Regions from separate parts of the Homo sapiens genome. Here all the other regions are linked to region 1. Evidence: fine-mapped expression QTL. A gene starts in region 1. Each other region holds a variant in brackets. All regions are shown on one strand. Distances are from middle to middle.

Region 1 (8,000 bases):
GAGGTGAGATTATAGTTTTTTTTTTTTTTTTTTCTTTTTGAGATGGAGTCTTGCTCTGTTGCCCAGGCTGGAGTGCAGTGGCGCGATCTCAGCTCACTGCAAGCAAGCTTTGCCTCCTGGGTTGACGCCATTCTCCTGCCTCAGCTTCCTGAGAAGCTGGGACAACAGGCGCCCGCCACCATGCCCAGCTAATTTTTTTGTATATTTAGTAGAGACGGGGTTTCACCATGTTAGTCAGGATGGTCTCGATCTCCTGACCTCGTGATCTGCCCGCCTCGGCCTCTCAAAGTGCTGGGGATTACAAGCATGAGCCACCGTGCCCAGCTGGTTTTTATTTTCTTATTGTTTGCCTATTTTAACCTTTCCTAAAATGAAAATATATTTTTAAAAAATCATTTTATTTAGAAAAATTAAATTAGTGCCCCTCAAGTCTGATTTAATGATATTAGACTAGCCTTTCCCACAGCTGTTCTAACCGTAGAACCTTGAAGTTTAGTAGAAAACTACAATGTTACAAATTTCATCATGTGTAAATATAACCTAAATCATCTTAGAATTGTGATGACCAGAACGATTTCTATTTGAGATGCAATCCTAGTCTCAGAAACAGACTTCAACCAACAAAATAATTATTTCTCAAGAGTAAACCCTTAACTAGAAAAACCAGGTAATTTTGTCAAGATTACAGGTGACCGTGACAGATTATTTTAGCCTTCATTCTGACCCTATTTTCAGACACAGAAGCAAATGGGTTTTCTTACTGAATTTATCAACTATACCTACTTTGCGTACAGAGCTTGTAGACATGCTCCAGAAAGGGTTCATAACGTGTATTCCAAACAAAGAAAGTCAGTGGTGTATCATCCAAATCTTCTGTCTTCGGCATTCACTTTACCTTAAAACAAGACGGGAAGACATAGAAACATGCCAACACCAACCATTAAGACTTTTTTTTTTTTTTAAGATGGAGTCTCACTCTGTTGCCCAGGCTGGAGTGCAGTGGTGTGATCTCGGCTCACTGCAACCTCCACCTCCTGGGTTCAAGCGATTCTCCTGCCTCAGCCTCCTGAGTAGCTGGGATTACAGGTGCCTGCCACCATGCCCAGCTAAGTTTTGTATCTTTAGTAGAGACAGGGTTTCACCATGTTGGCCAGGCTGGTCTCGAACTCCTGACCTCAAGTGATCCACCTGCCTCAGCCTCCCAAAGTGCTGGGATTACGGGCATGAGCCACCACGCCCGGCCAACAGTTAAGACTTCTGAAATGATGAATAACTAATTATGACACCCTGGATATACAATATAATGTTATATAACAAGGGGTTATAAAAACCTAGGAAAAGGTCTTCAGGCATCTTCAGAAATAGTTTCCTTCTATACCCACCTCCTTTTCTGGTTCTAATTTCTTTCACACTTAGATGTCTATAAGAATCTGTGCACCAGGTCCCTTGGCCAGGATTCAGATTACTCAGTGACACAGATGAGCTTTGGTGCCAGAAATTCAGAAGATACGGACAACAGTTGTTACTAGCACATCTCGGCATTTAACTAACAGGAAAGCCAGACTCAGAATGCACTGTACCCACATACACATAAGTTGTATCACTGTTCCCAGGGTTATGGGAACAAACAATAGATACAAGGAGGCTGATTTAAGCGCTGCCTCAACTCACCTGAGTACAAAATGATTCCTCCAGCAAAGTATTAGCCAAAGAAATAAGAGAAAACAGGAAGGCACAGCACAAGTATGTCACTAAGACGACAAAAGTAGTTACCTGAGTCCTGTCAGTACCATCCCCCAATAAACTGCCTTCTACAACTTCGAAACATATAGAAACTGCAGGATCATGTACTTAAGGAACTGCCAAGCAATCCAGACAAATGCAACACAGGCACGCAAGAGAGACATTTCACAAGTACAGATCTTCCAGCCGAAGCTTCAAGTCGTGGATAAGAAAGCATGTCTCAAAGGTCATAAAGTCAGTGGGTCATTTACTAAAAATACAAAGAAGCAAAGGAAAAGCAGCCAAGCCCAGCTGTAAGAACAGCAACTTCCCTGCCCTGGTATTTCCCCCCAGGCTCTGTTACCTTTAAAGCAGAGCTCCTTCTCTGAATTCCTACTTGCACCAATCAAACGGCTGAAGGTGAAAAGGGTCAAAACTAAGCAACGTTTTCCTAATTTCTTAAACAGATCATGAGCAAACCATGTACTAAATGTCCCCAATCAGCAATAATTTGTCTTCTCTGACGAGCTTGTGACATCCAGGGACGTACCCAACCCAGGTCATCCATACCTTGCCAGTGCCCATTACTGCTGTTTTGTTTTCCAAGAGAAAATGCCACCCAGTAATTAAATCAGAGGAATGAAGATCCTGGCTCTTCTACTAGCATGGATAACATGCAATAAGTAACAACAGTTCTCCGCAAATCTGCCTTTAAAGGTGAGTATGACACACTGAATATACTTGAGATATCAAAAATGTGCGGGGGCATGTTCCCCTTTGGCTCAAATGAAGACACTGATTTTCAGATCTAGCAGTAATGTGCAGCACCCCAGTGTCCTCTAGGACACACCTAACACGGGACCGGATCCCTTGGGACACAGTGGTGTGCTCCACAACATACATTTAATGGGCTGGTGCAAACCTGTAAAGTCTCTTAAAGGTCTAACGCGTTAGGATTCTCTTTAAGAATCCAGTAAATTTTGTCCCCAGTTCTGCCTGTCATTAAGCAGGAGGTATTGTCTTCTGCTGCCTAACTTTGCTATGGATCTTTTAATCCAATGTTTCCAGCAGCAACATAATCACGAGAAACTGTAGCACACTTTTCAGGGTCTAGTCTAGGACAAGCACAGCATACATGTTCTGAGAGGAATGACATAGATGGAAGCAAGACATGTTACATCCTTGTCACTTGGAAACAATTTTAGAATTTCTGCCTGTTTGGCCACGGCTGCATTCCTTTACATCACCCAGCTGAGAAGTCTGGGTCTTCAGCCTGCGCGAATGACAGTGCGTGGCAGAGCTAAAACTAGGCTAAAACATGAGTGCTGCTGTTACTCTACATGCCACAGCGCACTCACATCACCCCGAATCGGACTTAAGAAATTACACGTTAAGAGGAGACAGAGCAGGGGCCAGAAAAAAAAAGATGAAAACGGCCCGGGCCAGGCTCGCTGGGGACAGCCGGGACCCGCGGCGGCCTCGGACCGGCACCCTCACCGCGGGCGGAAACCCGTCTCTGAGCACTCAGGGAATCTGGACAAACCTGTCTCGAGGTGATGCAAGGCGGGGGCCCTGTCCTGGCCTCGCAGCTAGCTCGATGCTGGCCCGGGAGCCGCGGGCCCCTCCAGTGGGGGGGCTCTGGGGCCCGGCGACGCCCCCTTAACCAGAGCTCGGGGTCGGGACCCGGCCGGGGAGGGCGGGCACGGGCCGGGGCGAGCCAGCTGGGCCCCCCTCTCCCTCGGGCCGGGCCAGCCCAGCTCCAGCCGCAGTCCCCAGCAGCAGTCCCGGGCTGCGAGGCGGCCAGCGCAGCAGGTGCCTGCAAACGCGCACAGGTGCCCGGCCCCGCCTCCGTGTCCCACTGCGGCCGCCGTCGCCGAGTCGCGAGCGCCTAGAAAGATGGACAAATGCCGGGCCCGTGGAGGCTGGCGGCCAGATTTACAGACACCTCAGCCCTCGCGTACCCACCAGCCTGCCGGGCAGTAAGCCTCACCCCAGTGCCTTCAATGCAGAGCTCCTGGCTGCCAAGCGCCGCCGCGGCCCGACAGCATCTCCCGCCGCAGCGCCAGCCCTGCCCCTGCTTGATCCCCGCCCCGCCCCACCCCGCCCTGCCCTGCCCTGCCCTGCCCTCGGCAGCGGGCTCCGCCCCCTGCTGCACGATCCTGGGGCCCGAGGCTTCCGCCTGGCCTCCCGGCGCCAACTGGCTCTCACACCTGCCCGTCAAAGACGTTCTTCCGGGGGCGTTGGGAAGAACACACTCGGTCCTGCAAATCAAATCACCCCGGTTTGGGTGGGACTGCACTTGACCCTCCCCTTACGTAACAGCGCCTGGGACGGCCTGTCAGTCATGGAAGTATCGGCCCCCCGGGGAGGGATGGGGCAGAGACAAACAAGCGCCGGGTCACAATTGGCCAGGGCGTCTGCCAGTCACCACGGAGACCTTCCCGGAGGTTTATTCGCACAGCCCACAGCGCAACCGCCATGCGCAGGGGCTGGGGCATACGCTAACGTCTGCAAGCCAAGCTTTTGGGGAGGGCCGGGCCGCGCGACTGCCCAGTGGCTCCCATCGCTAGGTCCTACTGCGTTGGGCGGCGCTGCGAGGCCCGAGGCCGCCACGTCGGGCCCACAGGGTACCAGGGGTCAGAAGGACACTTGGCGTGGCATCAAGAAACGCCCGTTCTCTCCATCAGTGCAGGAGCTGAAGGCTGGAGCTGAAGGGAGCTCAGCTCCAAGTGGGCCCTGGGCACTAGAGCAGCCAGAGGAGCTTTGTAAATCTGTGTGTGTCGGCCCCGACCTGCAGCATCCGAGTGGGGGCCGGGGGCTGGGGGGAGGGGGGAGGCTGAGGACCAGGAATCCACATCTGTCACAGTTCGCTGCTGATTCTGGCGCACACTGAAGTTGGAGAACCTCTCCCATAGCAACATAGTTCCTGGTCTTTTTTTTTTTTTTTTTTTTTAATTCACACGCTCTCATTTGGACCTCCCGTCTGCTTTCCCATGGAGGTCTCTCTCTGGCCTAATTCTGTGACTGCTGCCAGCTGCTTTCCAGGCCTGTTCTTACCAACGGTGCCTCCCCGTGGTTAGTCCGTCCAATCTCGGCACTCCACTTCCACACTTGCGCGACAGCCCTCTCCCCGCAAGCCCCTGCCCCTTTTCTAGACACCAGAGGCACTGACCTGTCTGTGACACCGCCTCAGTGTCTTACACTCAGAAGCCGCATTCTCTGGCCGGGTTGTTTGGTCCATTTTTGGTTGCCTCTGAGATTCTGGTAAGTGACTTATTAAAGGGCAGGAAGCCAAATTCTCCTGATGTTAATCCCAAGGGTTGGTTCTGAAACCCAGCTTCCTCCCCTAGCTGAAAACACTTCTGAGCCACTTCCTTTTGTCCCCTTAGGACACATTTAGGAATGTTATCATGCCTTTTAATACGAGTCTTAATACAGAAAGGCAGGCAAGCAGGAAATCCTTTTTTCAGGCCACAGGTGGTCTCCTTTGGCACCTCTGTGGCCCATTTCCTCCCAATCTTCTTTGAAGCTCATTATCCTCTGCAAAGCTTTTTTTCTGCTTTCCTCCTTTCCCCAACCTTCAGTTTTCACCGAGGACCCACATAGGTATTTCTCCAGCTCACATCTATCCACTGAGCTTCCAATGCATGTCATCAACTGCGTACTTGGCACCGGATGACTCAGACGCACACCAGCATCAGACTGCACATGGCAGGAAAGCCAACTCAAACCGGCTTACTTAGCAAGGGGATTTCTCTCCCATGGGAGGATTGTCTCCAGAGGTGGTGCCCTGGTCTTCAGGCTCTGCTTTCCTTGCAGTCCCTGGAATTGCACTTTCAGGCTGGTAGCAAGATGGCCGCGGCACACCCAGGATCTCACAAAATTAAAAGTATCCCTTTCTTCCAGTGGTCCCTTTTGAAATACATGACTACCTTTCCCAGAAGCTCCGCAGAAGAAATGCCTGCAGGTTTCAATGGCCAGAAGTAAGTCTCTGGCCACAACGAAACCCAGTCAACGGCAAGTGGAAGGAGTCCGCCATGATCGACTTGGGCTGAGATTTTCCCTAGATCTCTGCCTGGACTTTAGGCAGAGGAGAGCCATGATCAGATTTGTATTTTGAAAACATCACTTTGTGCGGAAAACAGATTGTAGGGGCACAAGGCTCACGGGGCAGTTGAGGAACCATGGCAGTAGTTCAGGCAACAGAGAATCGCATGAATTTGAAGGTAGAGATGGAGAATTGAATGAGTTCCAGAGATGTTTAAGACGGGATGATATAGTTTGGATATGGTTTGACCCTTCCAAACCTCATATTGAAATGTGACCCCCAATGTTGAAAGTGGGGCCTGGTGGGAGTATTTGGGTCATGGAGGCTGATCCCTCATGAAAGGCTTGGTGCTGTCCTGGCAGTAGTGAGTTCTTGGCAGTAGTGAGTGAGTTCTATTAGTTCCCGAGAGAATTGATTGTCAAAAAGAGCCTGTCACCTTCTCCTCCCCTGACCACTGCTCTCTCTCTTGCCAAATGATTCCTGCTGGCCTCTCCCTCTGCCATGAATGGAAGCTTCCTGAGGTCCTCACCAGAAGATGCTGGTGCCATGCTTCTTATACTTAGTTGCCTCTGTCTTTCATTTGACATATATTTATTGCATGCTTAATGACATCTAGGCTTTAAATGCTGGGGAGGCGTTGGAGAACAAAACAGACATTGTTCCTCCTCATGGAGCTACGGGAGATAGATGCTAATCAAGTCATCTCCCAAATCAATGGCTAATTGCCCCAAGGAAGTGGACAATGAGCTGAATAAACCTCTTTTTAAAAATAAATGACCCAGCCTCAGGTATTCCTTTATAGCAACACTGATGGATTCATACAGGTGGGGTGGACAGAGCTTGGCCATGGACTAGGTATGGGGGATGAAGAGGCAGATATGGCTGACACCTAGATTTTTAGCATGAGCTACAGGATGGATGGTGAGGCCATTCACTGAGGTGACAAACAGTGAACCACAAGCAGGTTTGGGACAGTGGGAAATGGGAAAATCTGGGTTGTGTTTTGGGTAGGTATGTTTGGGGTGTTTCTGTAAGCACTATTGCCTGTATACCTAATACCCACTTCTCCCTTTTTCATTGCTGACAGAACCTCCATTTTCTTGAGGAATTTAAGCCCTTCAGTGGTTCCCCATTGGGCAAAGACCAAACTCCTCACCATGGCTGTGTCCCAGCCCCAGGTGGCTGCAGACTCCAGCCACTCTGACATTCTTCCAGTTCCTTGGAAGGGAGTTGCTCCCCTACCTGCCCTGCCACAAAAGGGGCCTTCGCAGTGAACGTTCCCTTTGCCCAGTTCATTCTCTTCAATCCCCTACACAGATCTCAGCTCTAACACTACTTCCTTGGGGGCAATTTGCTGTTGATTTGGGAGATTATTAGTGTCTGTCTCCCACACTGTAAGCTCCTGAGGAGGAACCATTTTTTTGCTTTCTATTGTCTCCCCGGCACCCAAGAGCTAGATGTTGTAGGCATGCAATAAATATTTGCCAAATGAAGGACAGAAGAAACAAAAGTACATTTGAAACACCTACCTGCACGCCCACAGGTCTGCACCAAGAAAGCAACTCATTATGAAAATCAGGATGATTTATTCAAAGGGAAATGAGGAGGTGGCCTCAAGGTACCATTTCTTTAAGACTAAAACATAAAGTGCTGAGAAAAATCTCAATGGACCCAAAACCTTACCTATAAAACATTTTAAATCGCTTCATATTACATTTCCTATTCTCAATTTTTGAAGCATATTTGATATATTTGCACCAAAAGGTTCTTTTTGCATCCAGACTTAATAGATATGTGATCTCTGAGTATTCAGGACTTCTGCTCATGTTCTAATCAGCAAAATATTCCCTGAATCATACATCTTTTGGACTCCGGAAAAGTAACTGTACAAAGCTGTTTAGATCACTGACTTAACTATTAAAGGCCTTCACAGAAAGAAGGAAAGGATAAAATGTTGAAGGTTGTTAAAATACATATGTTTCATACACAGGCACACATATAAGCCGATGTTTTTAGCGCAATCCATTTGCCCCCAAGTCCTTTTCTGAAAAGTAGATTCCTGTATACATGTCACTGATTACATATACTGTTCAAAATATGGGAGGATGATCTAGCTATACATATTAATGTCTTTGAAAAAATATACTTAGCACATTAAAGCCATTATTTTATGGGTAATAATGTTTAGGATGAGACCAAAGTAGGCATTTAATGTTGTTGTTTTTTTTAA
Region 2 (8,142 bases), 25 kb before region 1:
TGCCAACAGTTTGTTGAGGAATTTGTTTTCAGTTAAAAAAAATATTTATTTTTTCAAGTTTCCACATGCAGCAGTGATTGCTAAGGAATTTTATCCTTATGCATAAGAGGCATTGGTCTGTAGTTTTCTTGTTGTGGCTTTGTCTGGTTTTATTATCAGGGTAATAATGGTCTCATAGAATTGAGTAGGAAGTGTTCTCTTCTATATTTAGGTATTATATTTTTTCCTTTGCCTTTTTTTTTAATTTACAGCTGCCTGAAAGACCCATGGATATGAGCTTCTTGGTATTAATGTTTTAAAGTTTGGTAGAATTCAGCAGCGAAGCTGTTGAGACCAGAGATTTTCCTTGTGGGAAGTTTATTGGTGAATAATTCCGTCTCTTATTTGTTATAGGTCTATTCAGATCATCTGTTTCTTCTAGAATCAGTTGTGGTAGTGTATGTCTTTCTAAGAATTTGTCTGTTTCCTCTGGGCTAAATTGTTGGCAAATAATTATAATATTTCCTTCTGTTCTTTTTTATTCTTTAAGGTCAGTAGTAATGTCCTTTTCCTTTTATGATTGTAGTTTTCGTTTTGTTTTGTTTTTTGAGACAGTCTCACTCTGTTGTCCAGGCTGGAATACAGGGGCATGATCTTGGCTTACTGAAACCTTAGCCTCCTGGTTTCCAGTGATTCTTGTGCCTCAGCCTCCTGAGTAGTTGGGACTACAGGCCTGTGCCACCTCGCCCAGCTAGTTTTTGTATTTTTAGTAGAGATGGAATTTCCCCATGTTGCCCAGGCTGGTCTCAAACTCTTGGCCTCAAGCGATCCATCCACCTTGGCCTCCCAAAGTGCTGGGATTGCAGGCATGAGCCCCTGTGCCCTGCTTTTTGTAGTAGTTTGAGACTCCTCCCTTTTGTTCTTGGTCTAGCTAAAGGTTTGTCAATTTTCTTGATCTTTTTCTTTTAAAAACCAGCTTTTTGGTTTCATTTATCTATTTTTGTGTTCTTTATTCATTAGTATATAATCTTATTTCCTTCTTTCTGCTTACTTGAGGCTTACTTTTTGCCCTTTTCTGTTGTTTTAAGATGGTTTAAGATGGATGTTTAGGTAATTAATTTACTATTTCTCTTAATATCTTTTTTCCCCAAATCCTTTACGTAGATATCAGTATCTTTTAAAAGATACCTTTCTAATATTTCAATATCTTTTTTTTTTTTTTTTTTTTTTTTTTTTGAGACAGCATCTTGCTCTGTCGCCTAGGCTGGAGTGTAGTGCTCACGGCAGCCTTCCTCCAGGGCTTAAGTGATCCTCTTCCCTAAGCTTCCTGAGTAGCTGGGACCACAGCCGTGCACCACCATGCCCTGCTAATTTTTTGTAGATACGAGATTTTGCTGTGTTACCCAGGCTGGTCTCGAACTCCTGAGCTCAAGCAATCCTCCCTCCTCAGCCTCCCAAAGTGCTGGGATTACAGGTGTGAGCCACCGCCCTTGGCCCTTCTTCATTTTCAGTGTAAGCATTAACAACTCTAAATTTTCCTCCGTGCACTGCTTTAGCTGCATGAGTGTTGGTATGGTGTGTCTTCATTTCAAAAGTATTTTCTGATTTCTTTTTTTGGCTTCTGTTTGACTCACTGGTTATGTAGCAATATGTTGTTAACTTCGTATTTGTAAGTTTCCCAAATTTGTTACTGATTTCTACTTTCATTGTGATTGAAAACACACTTCATTTTATTCCAGTTCTTTTAAATATATTAAGAATTGTTTTATAGCCTAGCATATATGCTCTATCCTAATGAATTTCAAAGTACATTTGAGAACAGTGTGTATTCTGTGGAGGTTGGGGAGAGTGTTCTGTAGATGTCTGTTAGGTCTAATTGTTTTATATTGTTAGTAAAGTGTTTTGTTTCCTTGTTGATCTGCCTAGATCATCTCTCCATTCTTGAAAGTGAGGTACTGAAATCTATAAATATTATTGCTGAATTGTCTACTTTTCCCTTCACTTCTGTCACTTTTCGCTTCAGGTATTTTTTGTGCTCAGTTATTAGGTATGTGTATAACTGTTATAGATTCCTGATGGCTTGATCCTTTTATCATTATGGAATGTCCCTTTTTAATAACTTTTTTTGTCCTGAAGTCTGATTTATAGTGTGAGATATATAGTCACCCAGCTTTCTTATGGTTGCTGTCTGTATACCTCTTTCCATCCTTTCATTTTCGAATGTATTTGTATTTTTTAAATCTAAAATGTCTCCTGTAGATAAAATACATTTGGATTTCTTTTGCCTTTTGACTATGTATATAATTGGATTTACATCTGCCATTTTACTTTTTGTTTTCATGTCTTTCCCTTTGCCTTTGCAGCTTTGCTTTTGCATTAGGTCAATATTTTCTAAAGTAGCATTTTAACGTCAGTACTTTGGTTTCATTTTGTGTGTGTGTGTGTGTGTGTGTGTAGTGGTTGCCCTAGGGCTTACCATATATCTCTTATCAAAAATCAGCTTCAGATTATACTGACTTAATTCCAGTGAGATATAGGAGTGTTAACTGTTTCGTTACACATATTACATCCATAAATGTACAACTCCACCAGTACATTGTTATAATTATTGATACAATTTTATGACTTCTAAAGTAGCAGAAAGGAAAGGAGTGTAAGTATGTATTTAAAACTTTTGCTCTAGTAACCTTATTAATAATTTCTGGTTTCCTTTCTTTCTTTCTTTTTTAAGACTGAGTCTTGCTCTGTCGCCCAGACTAGAGAGCAGCGGTGCAATCTCAACTCACTGTAACCTCTGCCTCCCGGGCTCAAATGATCCTTCTGCCTCAGCCTCCCATGTAGCTGGGCCTACAGGGTGCAGGCATGTGCCACCATGCCCGGCTGATTTTTGTATTTTTTTGTAGAGACGGGGTTTTGCCATGTTGCCCAGGCTGGTGTCGAACTCCTGGCCTCAAGCAGTTCACTTGCCTCAGCCTCACAAAATGTTGGGATTACAGGAGTAGCCACTACACCCAGCCTATTTCTATTTCTCTTATTCATTCCTGTGTATGTGAGTTGCCATCTGGAGTAATTTCCTTTGCTCAATATGGCTTTGCTCCTGCCTACCTCCTTTGTACTGTTGTAGGCAAATATGTTACATTTTTGTATGTTATGGGTACATTATATATATATATTATTTATACAATTGATTTTTTAATCAGTTAAGAAAGGAGAAGAAATGTGCAGTTATACTGTATTTACGATTACATAATTATCTTTACCAGTGCTCTTGGCTTTCTTCATGTGTAGTGTTGTCCAGGGGCATTTGCTTTTGGCTTCTAGAATTTTGTGTAGTATTTCTTGTAAGGGGTTTGCTAGCACCAAATTCTGTTTTTGTTTATCTGAGAGTATATTTATTTTACCTTCATTTCTGAAAGATAACTTGCAAAAATTTTGAATATTGACATTTCAGAGATAAAAATCTTGAGTAACTTTTTAATACTGGATTCTTAGTTTAATATTTTTTCTTTCATCACTTTGAATGTTATCCCACTGCCTCCTGGCCTCTGTAGTTTCTGATTAGAAGTCAAATTTTATTTTATTGGGGTTTCCCTGTAACTGAAAAGTTGTTTTTCTCTTGATGCTTTTAATATTTTCTTTCTTTGGCTTTGAACATTTTTACTGTGATATATCTGGGTACGGATGAGTTTATCCTACCTGGAAGTCACTGAATGTCCTGGATATGTAATTTAATAAATTTGGGAAGTTTTCAGTATTTCTTTGAACATTTTTTTCTGCTTCTTTCTCTCCTCTCCTGATTCTCCCATTACACGTATGTTGATTTCCTTAATGGTGTGCCACATTTCTCTGAGGCTGTTTTTCTTCATTCTTTCTCTGTTCCTCAGATCACACAATCTCTTTCTTCATGTTTGCTAATC[C/CT]TTTTTTTTTTTTTTTTGCTAGTTCAAATCTGTTTTCCCTAGCTTCTAGTGAATTTTTCATTTCATTTACTGTACTTTTCTACTCCAAGTCTTTTTTTGAGAGAGAGTCTTGCTCTGTCACCCAGGCTGTACAGTGGCTCAATCTCAGCTCACTGCAACCTCCATCTCCCAGGTTCAAGTGATTCTCCTGCCTCAGCCTCCCCAGTAGCTGGGATTACAGGCATGTGCCACCATGCCCGGCTAATTTTTGTATTTTTAGTAGATACTGGGTTTCACCATGATGGCCAGGCTGGTCTTGAACTCGTGACTTCAAGTGATCCACCCTCCTCAGCCTCCCAAAGTGCTGGGATTACAGGTGTGAACCACCGCACCTGGCCTCTAAGTCTTGATTCACATACTATAGACTCCTATTGTTTTTATTGAATTTTAATAGATATTCTTGAATCGATGTATCTTCATTTGCTATATGCCGTTAATACCATTTCCAGAGACTTTAAATAGCTTTTATATAATTTTCACCCCTTTTACTGGGCAGCAGGTTCACAGAGCTCCTCACACTATTATGGTGGTAGTTGCCATGTCTCTCAGAGCACTCTTATTGTTTGCCAGGTCACAAAAGAAGATAAGTCCTTCCAGAACATTATGCGTTGTTATAGGACTCAGCCGCAGGCCCGGAGCCAGGTAACTACATTTTCTCTATGGGCTGAAAAATAAAGCTTAAAGTCTGTGATGAATACAAAAAATTAACCATAGTTGACTCTGTGGCCTTTTTTCCAAGATAAACACCTGGGACTCTACTTAAGGGAAGTTTCTACTTTAATCTTTATTCTTGATGTCACATGTTGATTAAGGTCTCTTTTCCTCAAAAGGCAACAATGTTAAATATTTGATTGCCTTCTTAATTCAGAAAAATCACAAGATAGGAATTAAGAAGTTACTTGGTTTCTATGTCACCTTTCATTCTGGTTTAGTAAACATACTGTAGGTTTAACCAACAGAATGTCACATGGAAATTTAAAACCCACTTTGCCTTTATTACCATTCATCTCTGAGAGGCAAATCGGCCAGATCTGTGTATCTTACTTAGAATGACTTGACATTATGGTTGGGTGCTGTCACTGCAGTGTAGTACTGCAGGTAGTACTTGGCATGTGATGCTAGATGGGCTCTGATTGAATCCTGGATCTGTTATAATTTGAGTTATGTTTCTCAACCTGTTCTGAGGACAACTATTGCTATACAGGTTATTGTGAAAACCAAGTAACATATGTGAAGGTCCTATCACCAAGGGTGTGCTCAACAAATACTAGTTTATGTCCCCTTCTCATTGTTTCTCTAAAGGTGTATAGAAGTGTTTTGATAAAAGGGAAAAGAAAAAGAAGAAATTCTGGCAGCAGTGATAGCAGAAGCCATCAGAATTCTCCAACAGAACTAAACAAAGATAGAAGTAAGTGGGATCTTTGTGAACTACAAGACAAAATTAGGAGCTTTTCTTACTTTTTAGGCCTTGAAGAAGTAACTAAGCATTACTAAATGAAATAACTATAGAAACTATGAAAGTGTTTTATAGATCAGTAAACCATATTCTAGCTGGCAAAACTGTCCATTACATAGCTTTGGGGCACATATTATGTAACATTTTTCTCCAGGAGAATTAGAGCTTTCAGGGAGGAATCTGCTTGCCTGAGTTCCAGAAAGGTCTGATATGTCAATTGGAACCATGCTATGGAAATACCATCCCCTGCCTGTTGCTTTGTACCACTTAGTACAGGGCTTAGGTCCTAGAAAATTTGGTGTAACTTATTAATGGACACTACTCAGAAAGCCCTTGCTATGGTTATGGCATAGGGAGAAAGTTAATATCCTAGCTGAGCTTTGCTTTTTGGTGTGAAGAACAGAGTGCCTATTCACTGTTATTAGCAAGTAGTGCAGGTAGCTGTTCCCTTTCTCCTACTTTTAAAAAATTAAAACAGTCAATATTAGCAGCCTTTGTACTGACAGCCTTTGTTCTCCTGGCTGCAGCCAGTAGAGACTCCAGTCCAGTTATGAGGTCAAGCAGCACCTTGCCAGTTCCACAGCCCAGCAGTGCTCCTCCCACACCTACTCGCCTCACAGGTGCCAACAGTGACATGGAAGAAGAGGAGAGGGGAGACCTCATTCAGTTCTACAACAACATCTACATCAAACAGATTAAGACATTTGCCATGAAGTACTCACAGGCAAATGTAAGTATGACAGGGATTATTTCATACTTTTTTCACTCATGAGTGTTGAGGAATCATTTATGATTTATATATGGACCATTCACCTGGTCCGTATATAAACTAGTTTTGGCCAGGTGTGGTGGCTCACACCTGTAATCCCAGCACTTTGGGAGGCCGAGGAGGGCAGATCACTTGAGGTCAGGAGTTCAAGACCAGCCTGGCCAACGTGGTAAAACCCAGTCTCTACTAAAAATACAAAAATGAGCTGGGCGTGGTGGCACACACTTGTAATCCCAGCTACTCTGGGGGCTGAGGCAGGAGAATTGTTTGAACATGGGAGGCGGTGGTTGCAGTGACCTGAGATTGTGCCACTGCACTCCAGCTTGGGTGACAGAACAAGACTCTGTCTCATAAATAAGCTAGTTTTACAAATAATTCTATTAAGTAAAACTGAGGAGGTCTGTAATTTACCTAACCAATATAAATTCTACTGTTGTTAAGCATTAAACGAGTAAGATTGTATTTGGAGTCCCTACAAAGTATAGTAGTACAAGAGACAGGCTACATGGGTTCAAATTTTCCAGTACTTAACAGTGGTGGTAACCTTGCAAATCATTAAATTTTCTCTGTACCTCATTTCCTCATATATAAAATGGGAATATAACTAGTTCCTAGCATATGGGGTTGTTGTAAGGATGAAATGACATAATGTATAAAAATTGCTTAAAATAATAACTGGCACAAACTAAGCACTTAAGGTTTGCTATTAGAATATTTTTCTTTAGGTTAAGTTATTGCTAATACATCACTCTGTCATTCATAAAACTACTGGTTTAGCACACCTCTTCACTCAATAATCATTTTCAGTAAAAATAATTATAAATTTTTTTCTTAGAATTACTGATTTTTTTTTTTTAAACAGATGGATGCTCCTCCACTCTCTCCCTATCCATTTGTAAGAACAGGCTCCCCTCGCCGAATACAGTTGTCTCAAAATCATCCTGTCTACATTTCCCCACATAAAAATGAAACAATGCTTTCTCCTCGAGAAAAGATTTTCTATTACTTCAGCAACAGTCCTTCAAAGGTGAGCCTAACATCAATCTTGGCCTTTACTAACCTCAAAATGCTTCAGATGCTAGAAACAGGGTTTGTGCTAAGCTTAGGCACTCATTAGAGTGATGAGAGCTGCCAGGGAGCAGTGATCAGTCAGTCCTCATGAAGCAAAACCCAGGGTTTGTTTTGTTTTTTGCCTTTTTTGAGGGGGAGGGGGTGGAATTTTAGGGTGGGAAACAGGGTAAGGGATTTGGATTTCTTTTTATTCCCTCTCCTATTTGTACATTTTGCTGTAAACCTGAAATTTGTGTTTATCCCATTTGTAACAATTTTCCACATTTGTTAGGGAAAGAAATTTTGGATTCCTTACCAAAGGCCTGTTTCTGGGACAGGCAGTGTCCTCAGGACTCTGGCTAATGGGAGAAGTTGACATTTTTGACATTGCAGTGCAATAGTCATATTAGCACAGATGTATGTGGCAACAGCCACCTCATTCTAAGAAGGGGAAGGAAGCTTGAGTCAGGCCTTAATGTTGAAAAGTCAGGGAGCTGTTGAGGTATGGAAGGGCACTCAGCAGGAAGCAGGTTAAGGGGAAGAAAACAGTGTCCTTGAGGCAGACAGTGATCCAAAGCTTAATTACGGGCATCATGCTATGTTAGCGAGTGGAACTGGATTGTGAAGGCCCTTACATAATGAGATTTTTATTGATAAAGGTTGCTTAGAGGCTGGGCGTTGTGGCTCACACCTGTAATCCCAACACTTTGGGAGGCCACAGTGGGCAGATCACCTGAGGTCAGGAGTTCAAGACCAGCCTAGTCAACAGGGTGAAACCTCATCTCTATTAAAAATACAAAAATTAGCTGGGTGTGGTGGCATGCACCTGTAATCCCAGCTACTCGGGAGGCTAAGGCAGGAAAATAGCTTGAACCCAGGAGGTGGAGGTTGCAGTGAGCAGAGATCGCGCCATTGCACTCCAGCCTGGGTGA
Region 3 (8,142 bases), 58 kb before region 1:
AAGGTGCACATTCTCTTACTGTACTTCTTGGAGTAGTCCCCAAAGAAACTCCTGCACACATGTATAAGGATGTTTTCATTACAACATGTTTTGTTATCATGGAATATTAGAAACAACCTAAATTTCCATTGGTTGGGGAGTGAATGCAAAAAGTCATTGTATGTTCATATGAAAGAATGTTTTTAGCAATTAAAATGAATATATCTTACATATCAACATTAATGTCAGAAACATTATTGAGTGTGAAAAAGCAAGTTGCAGAATACCACTGAAGTATGATAGCATTTATATAAAATGTAAAAACACGTAATAAGATATTGCTTATTGTTTACACATACATGTGTATGTGTAGTAAGTGTGAAAACATAGGAAGGATTAAGACCAACTTTAGAATGGTTTTTATCTTTGGGGTAGAAGGGTAAGGATGGGATTAGGGAGGAGTATAAAATGGTAATTTTGACTGTTTCTTTTTCTTTTTCTTTTTCTTTTTTGAGACAGAGTCTCGCATTGTCGCCAGGCTGGAGTGCAGTGGCGTGATCTCGGCTCACTGCAACCTCCGCCTCCCAGGTTTAAGTGATTTTCCTGCCTCAGCCTCCTGAGTAGCTGGGATTACAGGTGCCCGCCACCACGCCCAGCTAATTTTTTGTATTTTTAGTAGAGATCGGGTTTTACCATGTTGGCCATGCTGGTTTCAAACTCCTGACCTTGTGAATCTCCCACCTCGGCCTCCCAAAGTGCTGGGATTACAGGTGTGAGCTACTGCGCCTAGCCTTGACTGCTTCTATAGTGTTGCTAGTTTAAAAAAAAATCTGAAGTGGCAGGAGGAGGTGGCTCACACCTGTAATCACAGTGTTCTAGGAAGCCAAAGTAGGAGGATCACTCAAGCCCAGGAGTCTGCAGTGAGCTGTGATCTTGCCACTGAACTCCAACATGGGTGATAGAACGAAACCCTATCTCTTACAAAAACAAAAACGACAAAATTTATTTAATATATTAACATTTAAAAAATCTGGCAGTGAACCAACGTGAATGTTGGTTAGGTTACTCTTGTTAATTTTGGTTTGTATTTTCAAATATTTCATAGTTAACAAATACTTTAGGTAACCTAAACAAAATGGATTAGGAGGATCAGAGGAATATACCAATCTGTAAGAAATTAAGCTAGTCAGAGACATGAGTTGTGATTTTATTTCACTGTCTAAAAGTAATATAATTTAATGCGATAATATTGATTTACTTTTGAATACTTACTTTTGTATACTTTAGCCTTATGTTAATTATGAAATATCTTGTTTGTCTTTAATACCAGCTTAATCGAATTTTTTAATAAGATGAAGAAGTGGGAAGACATGGCAAATCTACCCCCACATTTCAGAGAACGTACTGAGAGATTAGAAAGAAACTTCACTGTTTCTGCTGTAATTTTTAAGAAATATGAACCCATTTTTCAGGACATCTTTAAATACCCTCAAGAGGAGCAACCTCGTCAGCAGCGAGGAAGGAAACAGCGGTAGGTTTTCTTGTTGGTTCATCAGGAATACACGTTAGTCTGTGCTGCAGTGTTGATATTCTGCTAGGTTTTTTTTTTCTGGTTTTAAAAAAGAAATAAGATTTAAAAAATCTTTTTCCTCAGTCGTTTTCTTTTAATGATGCTTTTTTTGCTTTTCATTGTGGGTTAGCCATGAAGAGTGGCTTTTTTCATATTGCTAAATGTATACAGGTCTTTGTTTCTATAAACTTTCATTTGTCTTATTTTATTTTATTATTATTTTTTCCTCAGTGATCCTTGTTCTGAAACCTTCCTTTTTCATTTAAGCAACAAAAAATGCAGACTGTACAAGTCAGACTTAGGGATTTTCACCCTTTCGCCGCCTTGGAGATGTATCTGTATCTGTATCTGGATATATATATTTTTTATTGCGCAGGGGCCATGCTAATCAATGTATTGTTCCAATTTTAGTATATGTGCTGCCGAAGGGAGCACTGCCCTAGATATAGATCACTATATTAACCACTATATTTTCTACTAGTGATTATATAGACTATTTTATGTCAAACTGAGTAATAAATAATCCCCTTGAAATGACTTCTCTATGTATTTTGATGTTTATAATGAATTCAGAATAGAGAGACTGGATTGGGAAAAGACAGGAGAACTGAAACTATTATGAATTTGTGCTTTCTGATCACTTCTGCAAAGTCTATAAGCATGCTCTGACTCAGTGTTTTCTACCTTTCCTGATAGATAAAGGCAGTTATGGAATACACATTTTCCTTCTTTATCATTGAAAGTTTTTTCATAAAGTAGAAATGAAAATTCTAACAATTAGAAAAATGTTGACAAGAAAAGTAAAGGGAAAGGAGTTAAAATTATTTGGCTAGAATAAATAATGTTTGCTTCTCTTTAAATATAAAAGTTTTCCCAGACTGTGAAGGATGTTTACATTAAGTGTAACCTTTTAAAAATAAAATGGGGGAATGACAAACCAGGAGGAAAAAAAATTTAAAAAAACTAGAACTATTTACATTTTAATATAGATGGCACCACTGATACAGAAGCATCTGGTCTAGCTCACTTACAGTTTTGGGGAATTGACTATTTAAAATGAAGCATTCTGAGCCAGGCGGGTTGGCTCACGCCTGTAATCCCAGCACTTTAGGAGGCTGAGGCAGGCGAATCACCTGAGTTCAGGAGTTCAAGACCAGCCTGGCCAACGTGGCAAAACCCCGTCTCTACTAAAAATACAAAAATTAGCTGTGCGTGGTGGTGCATGCCTATAATCCCAGCTACTCGGGAGGCTGAGTCAGTAGAATCCCTTGAACCGAGAGGCAGAAGTTGTGAGCCAAGATCGTACCATTGCATTCGAGCCTGGGCGACAAGAATGAAACTCCATCTCATAAATAAATAAGTAAACAAATAAAAGGAGGTATTCTGGCTGAGTGCCTGTAATCCCAGCACTTTGGGAGGCCAAGGCGGGTGGATCACTCTAGGTCGGGAGTTCGAGACCAGCCTGGCCAACGTGGCGAAACCCCGTCTCTACTAAAAATAAAAAAATTAGCGGGGTGTGGTGGTGGGTGCCTGTAATCCCAGCTACTTGGGAGGGAGAGGTGGAAGAATCACTTGAACCTCAGAGTTGGAGGTTGCAGTGAGCCGAGATCACGCCACTGCACTCCAGCCTGGGCGATAGAGCGAGACTCCATTTTAATAAATAAATAAATAAATAAATAAATAAAATGACATATTCTCCTAGCACTTTGGGAGGCCGAGGCAGGTGGATTGCTTGAGGTCAGGAGTTCAAGACTAGCCTGGCCAATGTGCCAAAACCCCATCTCCACTAAAAATACAAAAATTAGGCAGGTATGGTGGTGTGTGCCTGTTGTCCCAGCTACTTGAGAGGCTGAGGCAGGTGAATCACTTGAACCCAGGAGTCGGAGGTTTCAGTGAGCTGCGATCGCGCCACTGCACTCCAGCCTAGGTGACAGAGTGAGACTTCGTCTCCAAATAAATAAATAAAAAATGAAGTATTCTAAAGTTTGAATAGAAGCTTTGTACTGAGTCTGAGTGAGGCCAATGTGATCATTTATGGGAAGATA[T/C]CTTCTTTCTTTGGAGTATCTGGAAAATAATTTCAGATTGCACTTGTTTTGCTATTTCTTAGGATATATATACTACCTAATTCTAATTAAGAGAATTTTAAAAGGCCATGTGCAGTGGCTCACACCTGATCCCCAGCACTTTGGGAGGCTGAAGTGGACAGATCACTTGAGCCCAGGAGTTTGAGACCAGCCTGGACAGTATGGCGAAACTTCATCTCCACAAAAAATAGAAAAATTAGCTTGGAGTGGTGGCGCACACCTGTGGTCCCAGCTACTGGGGAGGCTGAGGTGGGGGGATCACTTGAGCCTGGGAGGTTGAGGCTGCAGTGAGCTGTGCTCATACCACTGTACTCCAGTTTGGGTGACAGAGCAAGACCTTGTCTCAAAAAAAAAAAAAAAAAAGTAAATCACTTTATTAGAGATTTTACATTTTAATCACTTTGTATACTTTCTGTTAGCTCTTTCTGTTAACTATAGTCATAATGTATAGCACTTACTGAGCATTTACTTTGGGGCAGGGACTCTTAAGACTTCAATATGTATTACTTCAGTTAATCCCTCTGACAACCTTGTGATACTCATACTATTGTTAGATAGAGAAAATTAGCCGCAGAGAGGTTAAGTAATTTGGCCAGGGTCGCACAACCAAGCGTGGAGTTCTTATTGAAACTGACTGCGGGAACCCATGTGCTTTACTGTGACTATATACTGCATCTCTCACACACTATCTGAAAATGTGTCACTATTTGTTTAGCACTTATCCACAGGAAATACTGTTAGGTATTATGTAGGACACAGGCATTTTTTAAAACACCAAACCCCACAGTCTCTGTCTTCTGAGAGCTTACAGTACAGTCAGCGAGATGAGGCAGGTATGAAGATTCCAGTGCATGCAATGCAGTGTGTTATAAAAGTCCCATGACTACCAGAGGGAATACAGATGTAAAACTTAGGAGGAAAAGAAATCACTCTGGATGAGCCAGTCAGGTAAGTTTACATGGAATAAGTAGAAATGGGTCTTGAAAGATGGGTACGAGTTTGATAGGTGAATTTGAAGATACAGATAGCACCTTCTGTGTAGAGGAAACAAGAAAAGACAAAAGCAGTAAAGCAAGAAGAAATGTGGGAGGTTAGTCAAGTTTTTTTTTCTAGAATTCTCAAGTTGTAGAGCCAGAATTAAGAGTAGCTTAAGTGTTAAGCTAAAAAAAATTGAATTTTATTTTGGTAGGCAACTAAAACTAGAAATAGTTTATCATGCGCCTATGGTAGAGAGGCTACTTTTAAAAGCAGAACACTGACATTTAATCCTTGCCATGGACTGGTGAACTAAGTACAGTATTGTACCCAAGTAGAGTAATCTTTTGACAGATGAAATGACTAAGGCCCAGGTGAGCAAGTACCCTAGCTAATGGCAGTGCTGGAACTAAATCTAATCTAATCTTCTCCACGGAATTTCGTTCTTCTGGGCACCTTGTTAGAATAAGGCTGTTGGGAGGTGGAGACCACAGATTTCTTGTCTAAAAGTTGTCAGAGGTTTTGGTAGAAAAGCCAAGCTTAAAGCAGGTCTGAAACTTGGCAGACTACTTGGCAATATACAACAGGTACTCTTAATGGATGGAAGTATAAGGAATTATAGGAAGCTCATAATTTACATTAAAAAGGCCTTTTGTGATTTGATATAGTCTGGAATATCTTTAAGGAGGGAGGGAGGGATACAGGTCATTAGCTATGATAAAGGAGAAAAAAATAAGGACATATCTGACTGCATATAGTGGTCCTAAAGCAGCATAGCATTGCTGTGTCATCAAAAGAACTATTTTTATTCATTTTATTTTCCACCTCACCTATCTTGCCCTCAAAAAACTTTAAAAAATTCTTTAAGAATTTTCTTTTCTTTGAGATGGGCTCTTTCCCTGGATCCCAGCTATTTCCTACCAATATTTTGTTAAGGCAGAACGTCCACGTTTTCCATGTGAAGCTGAATCTGTTGTCTCTCCCTTTAACTGTGGGTTTTATTTTACACCTGATTTATAATCATTTGGGATTTTTTTTTCTGATTCTTCTGTTGTCTCATGACTTTTTTTTTTCTTCCCCCAAAGGCGACAGCCCTGTACTGTGTCTGAAATTTTCCATTTTTGTTGGGTGCTTTTTATATATGCAAAAGGTAAGAAAATAGTAATATTTATTTAGATTTAATATGTCTATTTACATTTTCAGGTATTAATTTTGTCAACTTCTAATATGTATCAGGAAAAGATTTTCACTGAAAATTTTCTCAAGGGTTTTAATCCTAGATTCTTTTTTAAGTATTGCCTTTTCATCAAAGGATCTATTGGATTTCTTTACAATATCCAAATCTTCTCTTATTAAATGGAAAGTCCATTAACTTTGTTGTATACAACATCTTTTCTACCCAAAGCTACTCTTTTAAATTATGAGCTGAAAACACATTATTCTGTATATGCTTGTATTGTGAACTCTATTTTTCATGAGATGTATCTTATTTAGTTGAGCGCAATTACTGATCAACCTCAGAGCTGTTCAGATTTTTTTTTGTATCTTGTTCAGATAAGTATACTTAGTCAAATGCTTTTATATACTATTTATTTTCTTTCCCTTTTTTCTTGTCTCATTTAACCTACCCAAGGTCTGCATTCAGTGAAATACATGTCTCTATTATTTTTTGTCCTTTTTGTATTTATTTATTTATTTATTTATTTGAGATGGAATCTCATTCTGTCTCCCAGGGTAGATTGTAGTGGCACAATCTCGGCTCACTGCAGCCTACACCTCCCAGGTTCAAGTAATTCTCCTGCCTCAGCCTCCCGAATAGCCGTGATTACAGGCGCCCACCACCATGCCCAGCTAATTTTTGTGTTTTCAGTAGAGATGGGGTTTCACCATGTTGGCCAGGCTGGTCTCAAACTCCTGACCTCAGGTGATCTGCCTGCCCTGGCCTCCCACAGTGCTGGGATTATAGGCACGAGCCACTGCGCCCAGTTCCTTTTTATATTTCTATGTAGAAACAATTCTTTAAAGTAGATAGGAAAGTGCAGTTATATTATTATATAGCTTTCTTCTGTATACTATGTGGAATGCCTTTGCCACTAAGATGGCTCAATAAAATGCAAAGTTAACAAAGAATCTTAGAGCTGGAAGGAGTTTCATAAGTATAAGAGAGACTCTCATTATTAGATTAACTAGCTTAACTTACTTTATTTTATTTTTTTTTTGAGATGGAGTCTCACTCTGTTGCCCAGGCTGGAGTGCAGTGGTGCGATCTCGGCCCACTGCAACCTCTGCTGCCCGGGTTCAAGCAATCTCCTGCCTCAGCCTCCCGAGTAGCTGGGATTACAGGTGCCTGCCACTGTGCCCGGCTAATTTTTTGTAGTTTTTAGTAGAGACGGAGTTTCACCATCTTGGCCAGGCTGGCCTTGAACTCCTGACCTCGTGATCCACCTGCGTCAGCCTCCCAAAGTGCTGGGCTTACAGGCGTGAGCCATCGCACCCGGCCTAGCTTAACTCATTTACTTTATTTTTTATTTTTATTTTTATTTTTGAGACAGGATCTTGCTCTGTTGCCCAGGCTGGAGTGCAGTGGTATGATCTCTGCTCACTGCAACCTCCGCCTCTTGTGTTCAAGTGATTCTTGTGGCTCAGCCTCTTGAGTAGCTGGGATTGCAGGCATGCACCATTATACCTGGCTAATTTTTGTATTTTTAGTAGTGTTGGGGTTTTGCCATGTTGGCCAGGGTGGTCTCGAACTCCTGACCTCAAGTGATCTGCCACCTCGGCCTCCCAAAGTGTTGGGATTACAGGTGTGAGCCACCATGCTCAGTCAGCTTAGTTACTTTAAAGATTAGGCAGCTGAGCCCAGAAACTAGCTGCTGGGAACAAAGCTAAGATTGAACTCAGATCTCCTGGTTCCTGGTTCTTAGTTTCATACTGGCTGTGAAGGCCTCTGGGAAGAATGTGTTACATTGTTGGTCTCCAGGTTTGATTTGTCCTGGTCCCTCTCTGGCTAATTAGGGTGAGAGCCGCCATCCTTCCTTCCCTGAGCTGCATGCTTGATTCAAGAGAAAAATCTTTCTTTTGTCATACATGACACTGGCATGTTTCTTTAGTGATGATAAAGGCGACATGATCAGTGGCATGAAATAAAGGTTTTGGAGTATATAAACCATTTTTACAGCGGCTACAAATTTTAGAATGTGTGACTGCTATTATGTATGATGGTAATCTTTTCATATGATTGTATTGGGCAAGTATGTCTCATTTCTAGGATTTTTATCTGTTTTGTTTGTCTTTTATGGCATATGTGTACTTAGAAGTAAATATAGTTGGTACTATATATAATATGTACAATACAATAAAAAATAATTTCATTGTCCTTATTTTGTTCTCACTGGACCTGTTGGGGTGGTTTTTTCTCTGTAATTAACTCAGTGTTTGACTTTTATCTCATTAATTCAGTTTATAATAATTCCACCTTAAGAACCTTTGTGGATTGGGCATGTTGGCATATGCCTGGAATCCTAGCTACTTGGG
Region 4 (8,142 bases), 83 kb before region 1:
TAATCCCAGCTACTGGGGAGGCTGAAATAAGTTCATAAATTCAGCAGCTGTGAGGTAATTGGCCCAATTGCTATGCTACTTTCACCCCTTGAGGATGAACAGTGCACAGGAGAGTGCAGGTTTACAGGTCTCTGAATAGTGCCATCCAAAAATGGTGAACAACCACCCTGAAAAACAGCTTGGTGTTTTGTTTTGTTTTATTTTGTTTTCACAAATTAGAAACGTGCTTAACTATGTACCCACTAACTGCACTCCTGGCCACTTGCCCTAGAGAAATAAAAGTTGATATTCATGCAAAAACTTGTGCATGAGTTTTCACAGAAGCTTTATTTTTAACAACCAAACTATAAACCCAAATGTCCTTCAACAGGTGGATGGCTAAGCAAACCGTGGTACAGCCATACAATGGAATAGTACTTAGTAATAAGGAATGAACTATTGAATGATTTGCAATGACCTCAAAGGAATTAAACTTTAAAAATTTAATCTCAGGCCGGGTGCGGTGGCTCACACCTGAAATCCCAGTACTTTGGGAGGCTGAGGTGGGCGGATCACGAGGTCTGGAGTTCGAGATCATCCTGGCCAACATGGCAAAACCTCGCCTCTACTAAAAATACAAAAATTAGCCGGGTGTGGTGGCACCCGCCTGTAGTTCCAGTACTTGGGAGGCTGAGGCAGGAGAATTGCTTGAACCTGGGAGGCGGAGGTTGCAGTGAGCCAAGATCGTGCCACTGCACTCCAGCCTGGGCGATAGAGCCGAGACTCTGTCTCAAAAAAAGGAAAAAAAAAAAAAGGAGCTGAGAGTGCCTCCTGGGGGCACAAGGAAGGGACTGGCTGATAGCAAGGAGAGAAAGATTTCATCCTGGCTCAGGTAGAAGACTTTACATTTTGAATGATGACTGAGGAATCCGTCCTACCAGCTGTGGCCTGGAAGTCAGTCAAGCCCGGTGTTTAGCTTCATCAGTTGAGCAACTATTTAGTTGCTCAACTGTTCTCAGTTCTTGGGAGAGAAGAATGTTACTGCCCTCCTTAGCCTAAAACCTTAAGTGGCTTCTAATCATCTTTGGAATCAAGGCCGATATTTTCCCCAGGCCTTTGACTTCATCTCTACCCACATCTTGTGCCTTTTTCCTTTCACTTTTTACACTTAAACCACGTTCACATTCTTTTAACTCCCTGAACCAGCCATGCTTTTCCCTGATTCAGGCTCTTTGCATAATAAGCATGTTCCTCTACCCGAAACAAATCCTCCTCCCCTTCCTTTAGCTATAACTTCCAGATTCCTCCCCAGGGAAATGAAGGGCAAGAAAGAAAAACCTTTGTCCCCTCCTACCTACCCAATCACCCCCACCTCACTCCTCTCTCCTCCTCTCTCTCCTTTCTCTCCCTCTTTCTGTCTCTCCAACACACACACGGTTAAGGTCTTCTGTGATGCACTCCTATAGCTCCTATAGCTCCCTGAAGTTTCGCTTTTATGATATGTCGTATTCACATTTGCCAATTCTTGTTCTAGGTCTGTTTTCCCCATGAGATCACAGCTGTATAAGGGCAGGGACCATGCTTGTCTCATTTACTACTATATCCTGTGTCTGGCAAAGTATTTGACATATAGTAGGCACTTACTAAACATTTGTTGAATGTTTTAATGGATGGACAGCAGGCTTTCCGGCTAAATGAATGAATAAATGACTAATCAGACTCCAAGAACCAAACCTGTTAAACTCAATCATTAATGTTCATGCCCTCTACTCAAGGCGATGCCCTCACCCATGGCCTTTTTTTTTTTTTAAGTCAGGGTCTCCCTCTGTTGCCCAGGCTGGAGTGCAGTGGTGCGATCATAGCTCACTGCAGACTTGAACCCCTGGGCTCAAGCAGTCCTCTTGCCTCAGCCTCGCAAGTACCTGGGACCGCAAGCACGCACCAGAACGCTTGGCAAATTTTTAAAATTTTTTGTAGAGACGGGGTCTTGCAATATCGCCCAGACTGGTTTCAACCTCCTGGACTTGGGTGATCCTCCCACCTCAGCCTCCCAATGTTTTGAGAGTACAGGCATGAGCCACTGCACTGGCTACTCATGTCCTATTCATCCTTAACTTAATACATATTCCCAGACACTACTTTACTTACTCTGTTTGCAAGTAGCCCTCCCCACAATAAGAGACAGAAAAAAGAGTGTTACCAAGAGATCATATGGTGAGCCCAGGGAAAAGAAACATCTTACAGCTTGAATGCAAGAAGGAAGACAACAATAGGTAAAAGTGTCTGTGTTAGGCCATTTGTGTGTTGCTGTAAAAACAAACACCTGAGGCTGGGCACAGTGGCTCACGCCTGTAATCCCAGCCCTTTGGGAAGCCAAGGTGGTGGATCACTTGAAGTCAGGAGTTCGAGACCAGTCTGGCCAACATGGTGAAACCCCATCTCTACTAAAAATACAAAAAAAATTAGCCAGGCGTGGTGGTGCATGCCTGTAATCCCAGCTACTTGGGAGGCTGAGGCAGGAGAATCGCTTGAATCCAGGAAGCAGAGGTTGCAGTGTGCCAAGATCGCACCACTGAACTCCAGCCTGGGTGACAGAGCGAGATTCTGTCTCAAAAAAAAAAAAAAACAAAAAAACAACAAAAAAACCCGAGACTGAATAATTTGTAAAAACAGGTTTAGGGCAGGGTACAGTGACTCACACCTGTAATCCCAGCACTTTGGGAGGCCTAGGCGGGTGGATCACCTGAGGTCAGGAGTTTGAGATCAGCCTGACTAACATGGTGAAACCCAGTCTGTACTAAAAAAAAATACGAAAAAAAAATTAGCCAGCCTGGTGGCAGGCACCTGTAATCCCAGCTACTTGGGAGGCTGAGGCAGGAGAATCGCTTGAACCCAGGAGGTGGAGGTTGCAGTGAGCTGAGATCATGCCATTGCACTCCAGCCTGGGCAACAAAGCAAGACTCTGTCTCAAAAAAAAAAAAAAAAGAGGTTTAATTGGCTCACAGTTCTGCAGGCTGTACGAGTGCCAGAGGCGTTACAACCAGAGCAACTCCATCTTGAATAGGGGTTGGGTAAAATAAGGCTGAAACCTACTGGGCTGCATTCCCAGGAGGTGAGGCATTCTAAGTCACAGGATGAGATAGGTCAGCAGAAGATACAGGTCACAGAGACCTTGCTAATAAAACATGTTGCAGTAAAGAAGCCAGCCAAAACCCAACAAAACCAAGATGGCTATGAAAATAACCTTTAGTCGTCCTCACTGCTCATTATATGCTAATTATAATTTATTAGCATGCTAAAGATACTCCCACCAGTGCCACGGCAGTTTACAAATGCCACAGCAATGTCAGGAAGTTACCCTATATGGTCTAAAAGGGGGAGGAACCCTCAGTTCTGGGAATTGCCCACCCCTTTCCCAGAAAACTCATGAATAATCCACCCTTTGTTTAGCATATAATCTGGAAGTAACAATAAGTATAAGTAGCTAAACAGCCTGTGCTGTTTTTCTGCCTGTGGAGAAGCCATTCTTTTCTTTTATTCCTTTACTTTCTTTTTTTCTTTTTTCTGCAGGGGACAGAGTCCCGCTCTGTCACCCAGGCTGGAGTGCAGTGGCCCCATCTTGGCTCACTGCAACCTCCACCTCCCAGGTTCAAGTGATTCTCCTGCCTCAGCCACCAGAGTAGCTGGGAGTACAGGCACCCACCACCACACCTGGCTAATTTTTGTATTTTTAGTAGAGGTGGGGTTTCACCATGTTGGCCAGGCTGGTCTCAAACTCCTGACCTCAGGTGATCTGCCCGCCTCAGCCTCCCAAAGTGCTGGGATTACAGGTGTGAGCTACAGTGCCCAGCCTATTCCTTTACCTTCTTAATAAACCTACTTTCACTTTACTCCATGGACTCTCCCCAAATTCTTTCTTGTGAGAGATCCTGACAATGGGTTATTTTACGTAATTTGACTTAGAGTGTGAAGTTTAAATTGTATGTCTAAAGGGATCGGAATCCCTTTCCTGTAACACAAGCATGGCAGTGTCTGCTAGGATTCCGGGGAGGCCTCCAGGAACTGTTAAGCATGGCAGAGGTGAAGTGCAAGCAGGAACATCACATTGCTAGAACAGGAGCAAGAGAGAGGGGGTGAGGAGCCACGTGCTTTTAATTGACCAGATCTCATGACAACACACTCACCATCTGCAGGACAGCACCAAGCCATGAGGGCTCCGACC[C/T]GATCAGACTTCACCTCCCACCAGGTCCCACCCCTAACATTGGGGATTACATTAGACATGAGATTTGGGTGGGGACAAATATTCAGCTATATCAATGTCTAAAACCTCAGTGCTACAAAGCAGTTGAGGGTAGATAATACCATACCGTAATACCACACCACTCCAACATCCTTGTAGGCACCATAAGGCAATAATTGTTTTTTGTTTTTGTGTTTGTTTGAGATGGAGTCTTGGTCTGTCACCAGGCTGGAATGCAGTGGCCCGATCTTGGCTCACTGTAACCTCCACCTTCCGGGTTCAAGCGATTCTCATGCCTCAGCCTCCTGAGTAGCTCAGACTACAGGCGCGGGCCACCATGCCCAGCTAATTTTTGTATTTTTGGTAGAGACGGGGTTTCACCATGTTGGCCAGGATGGTCTCTAACTTGACCTCGTGATCTGCCCGCCTCGGCCTCCCAAAGTGCTAGGATTACAGGCGTGAGCCACCTCACCTGGCCATAATTGTTGTGTTTGTTTGTTTGAGACAGAGTCTCGCTCTGTCTCCCAGGCTGGAGTGCAGTGACGTGATCTTGGCTCACTGCAACCTCCGCCTCCTGGGTTCAAGCGATTCTCCTTTCTCAGCCTCCAGAGTAGCTGGGATTACAGGCATGCGCCACCACACCCAGCTAATTTTTGTATTTTTAGTAGAGATGGGGTTTTGCCATGTTAGCCAGGCTGGTCTTGAACTCCTGACCTCAAGTGATCCACCCGCTTTGACCTCCCAAAGTGTAGGATTATAGGTGTGAGCCACCGCACCCAGCCACAATAATTGTTTATAATGACACAAGGGCTAAGAAGGCAGTTTTTATGTACTTATTTATTTATTTTATTTATTTATTTATTTTTTATTCCCGATTGCCTGCATTTCCCTGTGTATGAAATTAGCAGGCGCTGGCTTGATCAGAGTGTGGGAGCCTGCCGAGCCTGCCCCCACCGGGAACCCGCGCTGGCCTACGAACCCCGCGCGCAGCCCCGGCTCCCGCCCATGCCTCTCCCTCCACACCTCCCGGCCAGCAGAGGGAGCCGGCTCTGGCCTCAGCCAGCCCCAGAGAGGGGCGCCCACAGGGCAGCGACAGGCTGAAGGGCTCCTCGAGTGTGGCCAGAGCGGACGCCGAGGCCAAGGAGGCGCCGAGAGTGAGCGAGGGCTGCTAGCATGTTGTCACCTCTCATTATGATAGTGGCAGTCTGGATCCGTGACCTTGGGAAAAGCTGTTCACATCAAGCATGACATCTTCCTTTGGGGAGAAATTTTCCTGGTTAGTTTTACCTTAAGGGTTCCAATGGGTGTGTACTTCTAAGAGTGTCGACGGACTCTTCTCAGTTGTAAGATTATGAACCCAGGTTTCAAGGTGTCAAAATTTTGTTGCAATGTGGATGGCAAGGACAGCCTTTCTCTGATGTCCTCAGAAGATCCAGTCTTCAAGTTCTAGATTGTGAAGGGGTTGATTGTCCTCAGTGAACCATAAAAAATCTTTCTTTACCTGATTAAAATATACTGTGGCATAATAATTTTTATAACCTAAAACATGCATTAAAAATGACAACTGAATGAAACTCCTTAATAAATGTTTAAGTGACCCATCAGGTAGCCAAATGTACCAGGTGGTTTTATTGTCTTCCCAGGAATATGGAACCAAACATTGGTTTTAAACTATTTTTGCATTTTATAAGTCACCACATTAATATATTTAACTGGGATTATTTTATTTTTTCCATCATGAGTCATGGAATGCAGAACCCTCAATAACAAAAAGCTTTAAGGACTCAGGAAGGACAAGGCAGCCACCCTGGTTCTCCATGAATCCATGCTTAACATTCAACTTATGTCCTCTTGAATACCAGTTGTTTCCCCAAATTAGGTGCATAGCACTAATAACTAATGAGTTATTATAGGTAATTTGACTTAGACTGTGAAGTTTAAATTGTATGTCTAAACAATTTCAATATCAGCTGGTTTAACATGAAAATTTGGCAAAGTATTTTCTTGGTATTTAATTAATTTTTTTGTTCTATTTAGGTTAGCAGTTTTATACAAGGAAATTTGGTTATTTCTGTGGTGTACAATAACTTTACATAATAACAATAATTATAATTGATAGCATATGCTTAGACATACTAGAATTTTATAAATTTCATACAATTTTGGAACATATATTAATATCATTTACTAAAATATAACCTGAAGATTAAACATTATTTTTATTTTGACAAAGCTTCCCATGTAATCTAACATGTCAAATAATTCTGTTTACCTGTCTTTTGGATGCTTCAGGGGCCCTCTGTAGCATTCCAAAGTTAAAGGTTAGAAAAGACCGTTTTGAAGCTGAAACTTGATTTTGGGAAGCATATTAAATATGATAAAAGTTTAAAACACTTGATATTATGAACAAGAATTCCAGGTCACCATAAGTCATTCATTTAGCCAAACTAATGACTCAAAAATTTTTAAAAGGCAAAAACTTTTACTCATTAATAAAGGGAAGGATTAGTTTTGCAAACAATCTGTCCTTTGTCTTTCCCTTCCTTTTTTTTTTTTTTTGGTGGAGCATTTAAAAGACAAACAAAAAAAATTGATTATCTTACTTTTAATATAACATGAAAATCTTGTTCAAGAGAGAAAGACGAATTTCACATTTGCATTAGTGGACTATTAATGTCAACCCCAATTTTTAGTAAAATTGTATAGACAAATCTATCCAATCTTAATCAGTTTGACCATAAGGCAAGATTTTCATAAACCTTTTATAACTCTTTACAAATTTTTGTTAAAGAGCAGATTAGTGCTTTAAGAAAACCTTGTTGTACTTTTATTTGGATGTTCAGTTTATGGAAAAATCTAATAATACCATTTTAAATTTAGTCAATATTTTCACACATAGAATTTCTTTTCTTTCCTTCTGTTTTTTTGGAGGCAGAGTTTCACTCTTGTCACCCAGGCTGGAGTACAGTGGTGCGATCTCAGCTCAACAACCTCTGCCTCCTGGGTCCAAGTGATTCTCCTGCCTCAGCCTCCTGAGTAGTTTGGACAACAGGTGTGCACCACCATGCCTAGCTAATTTTTGTATTTTTAGTAGAGACAGGGTTTCACCATGTTGGCCAGGCTGTTTGTAAACTCCTGACCTCAAGTGATATGCCTGCCTTGGCCTCCCAAAGTGCTGGGATTACAGGCATGAGCCACCACACTCAGCCAGAATTTCCTTTACAAGGTTAATTTTTACAAACCTTCCACAACTTGTTTAAGCCTATAGCTTTATTTTATTTAAAGCAATCCTTTAACCCTCTAAACTAGGAAACAATTTACATTCCCATGCCTTTGAATAATCTCTTACGAAAAACATTTTATTCTCCTCACACACCTTGCATGTAAACCTATTTTTTTTTTTTTTTTGAGATAAGGTCTCGCTCTTTCACCCAGGCCAGAGTGCAGTGGTGCGATCTTGACTCACTGCAACCTCCACCTCCTGGGTTCAAGTGATCCTCCTGCCTCAGCCTCCAGAGTGGCTGGGATTACAGGAGCCCATCACCACACTGGCTAATTTTTGTACTTTTAGTAGAGAGGGGGTTTCACCACGTTGGCCAGGCTGGTCTTGAACTCCTGAACTCAAGTGATCCTCCCACCTCAGCCTCCCAAAGTGCTTGGATTACAGATGTGAGCCACTGCACCTGGCCAACCTATACCTTTAGTAGTCTTAATTACATGTTATAATGGTAATTCTTAGCAACTTTCACTTTTGGTGCATAAATTTTTCTTCTATGAATCCTTTCATGACTTATACAGAACATCTATGACATGCTTGGACTTTCTTATTTGTCCTAAATATCCCTCTTTTTAAACAACCAGTCATTTTACTTTAGGACAAGAATTTACCATACCAGATCCTTTCTTCTATAAAATTTATTTTC

Evidence for each region. PIP is the estimated chance that this variant, and not a neighbour inherited with it, causes the effect.
Region 2: its variant is fine-mapped to the expression of AKTIP in whole blood (INTERVAL, PIP 0.98).
Region 3: its variant is fine-mapped to the expression of AKTIP in tibial artery (GTEx, PIP above 0.99).
Region 4: its variant is fine-mapped to the expression of AKTIP in cerebellum (GTEx, PIP above 0.99).

What each region holds. Positions count from the first base shown.
Region 1 is chr16:53,499,435-53,507,434 of GRCh38, forward strand. It overlaps AKTIP (AKT interacting protein), which reads right to left and starts at 3,775. Exons shown (of 10, transcript NM_022476.4): 1 at 3,713-3,775; 2 at 784-895. The coding sequence starts at 825. LOC124903690 (a long non-coding RNA gene) reads left to right here and starts at 4,946. Exons shown (of 2, transcript XR_007065069.1): 1 at 4,946-4,986; 2 at 5,307-6,544. RefSeq lists enhancers at 2,971-3,472, 3,473-3,972, 4,433-4,532 and silencers at 3,243-3,542, 3,803-3,872, 3,893-4,132, 4,853-4,942.
Region 2 is chr16:53,474,649-53,482,790 of GRCh38, forward strand. RBL2 (RB transcriptional corepressor like 2) reads left to right here. Exons shown (of 22, transcript NM_005611.4): 18 at 4,506-4,577; 19 at 5,238-5,343; 20 at 5,919-6,121; 21 at 7,023-7,187. Among named protein-coding and RNA genes, the nearest start is that of AKTIP, 24 kb to the right of the region's middle. The variant C/CT (reference allele first, on the strand shown) is at 3,897.
Region 3 is chr16:53,441,349-53,449,490 of GRCh38, forward strand. RBL2 (RB transcriptional corepressor like 2) reads left to right here. Exons shown (of 22, transcript NM_005611.4): 3 at 1,310-1,510; 4 at 5,694-5,758. It also overlaps the pseudogene RNU6-1153P. Among named protein-coding and RNA genes, the nearest start is that of RBL2, 11 kb to the left of the region's middle. The variant T/C (reference allele first, on the strand shown) is at 3,595.
Region 4 is chr16:53,416,196-53,424,337 of GRCh38, forward strand. No RefSeq gene overlaps it. Among named protein-coding and RNA genes, the nearest start is that of RBL2, 14 kb to the right of the region's middle. The variant C/T (reference allele first, on the strand shown) is at 4,202.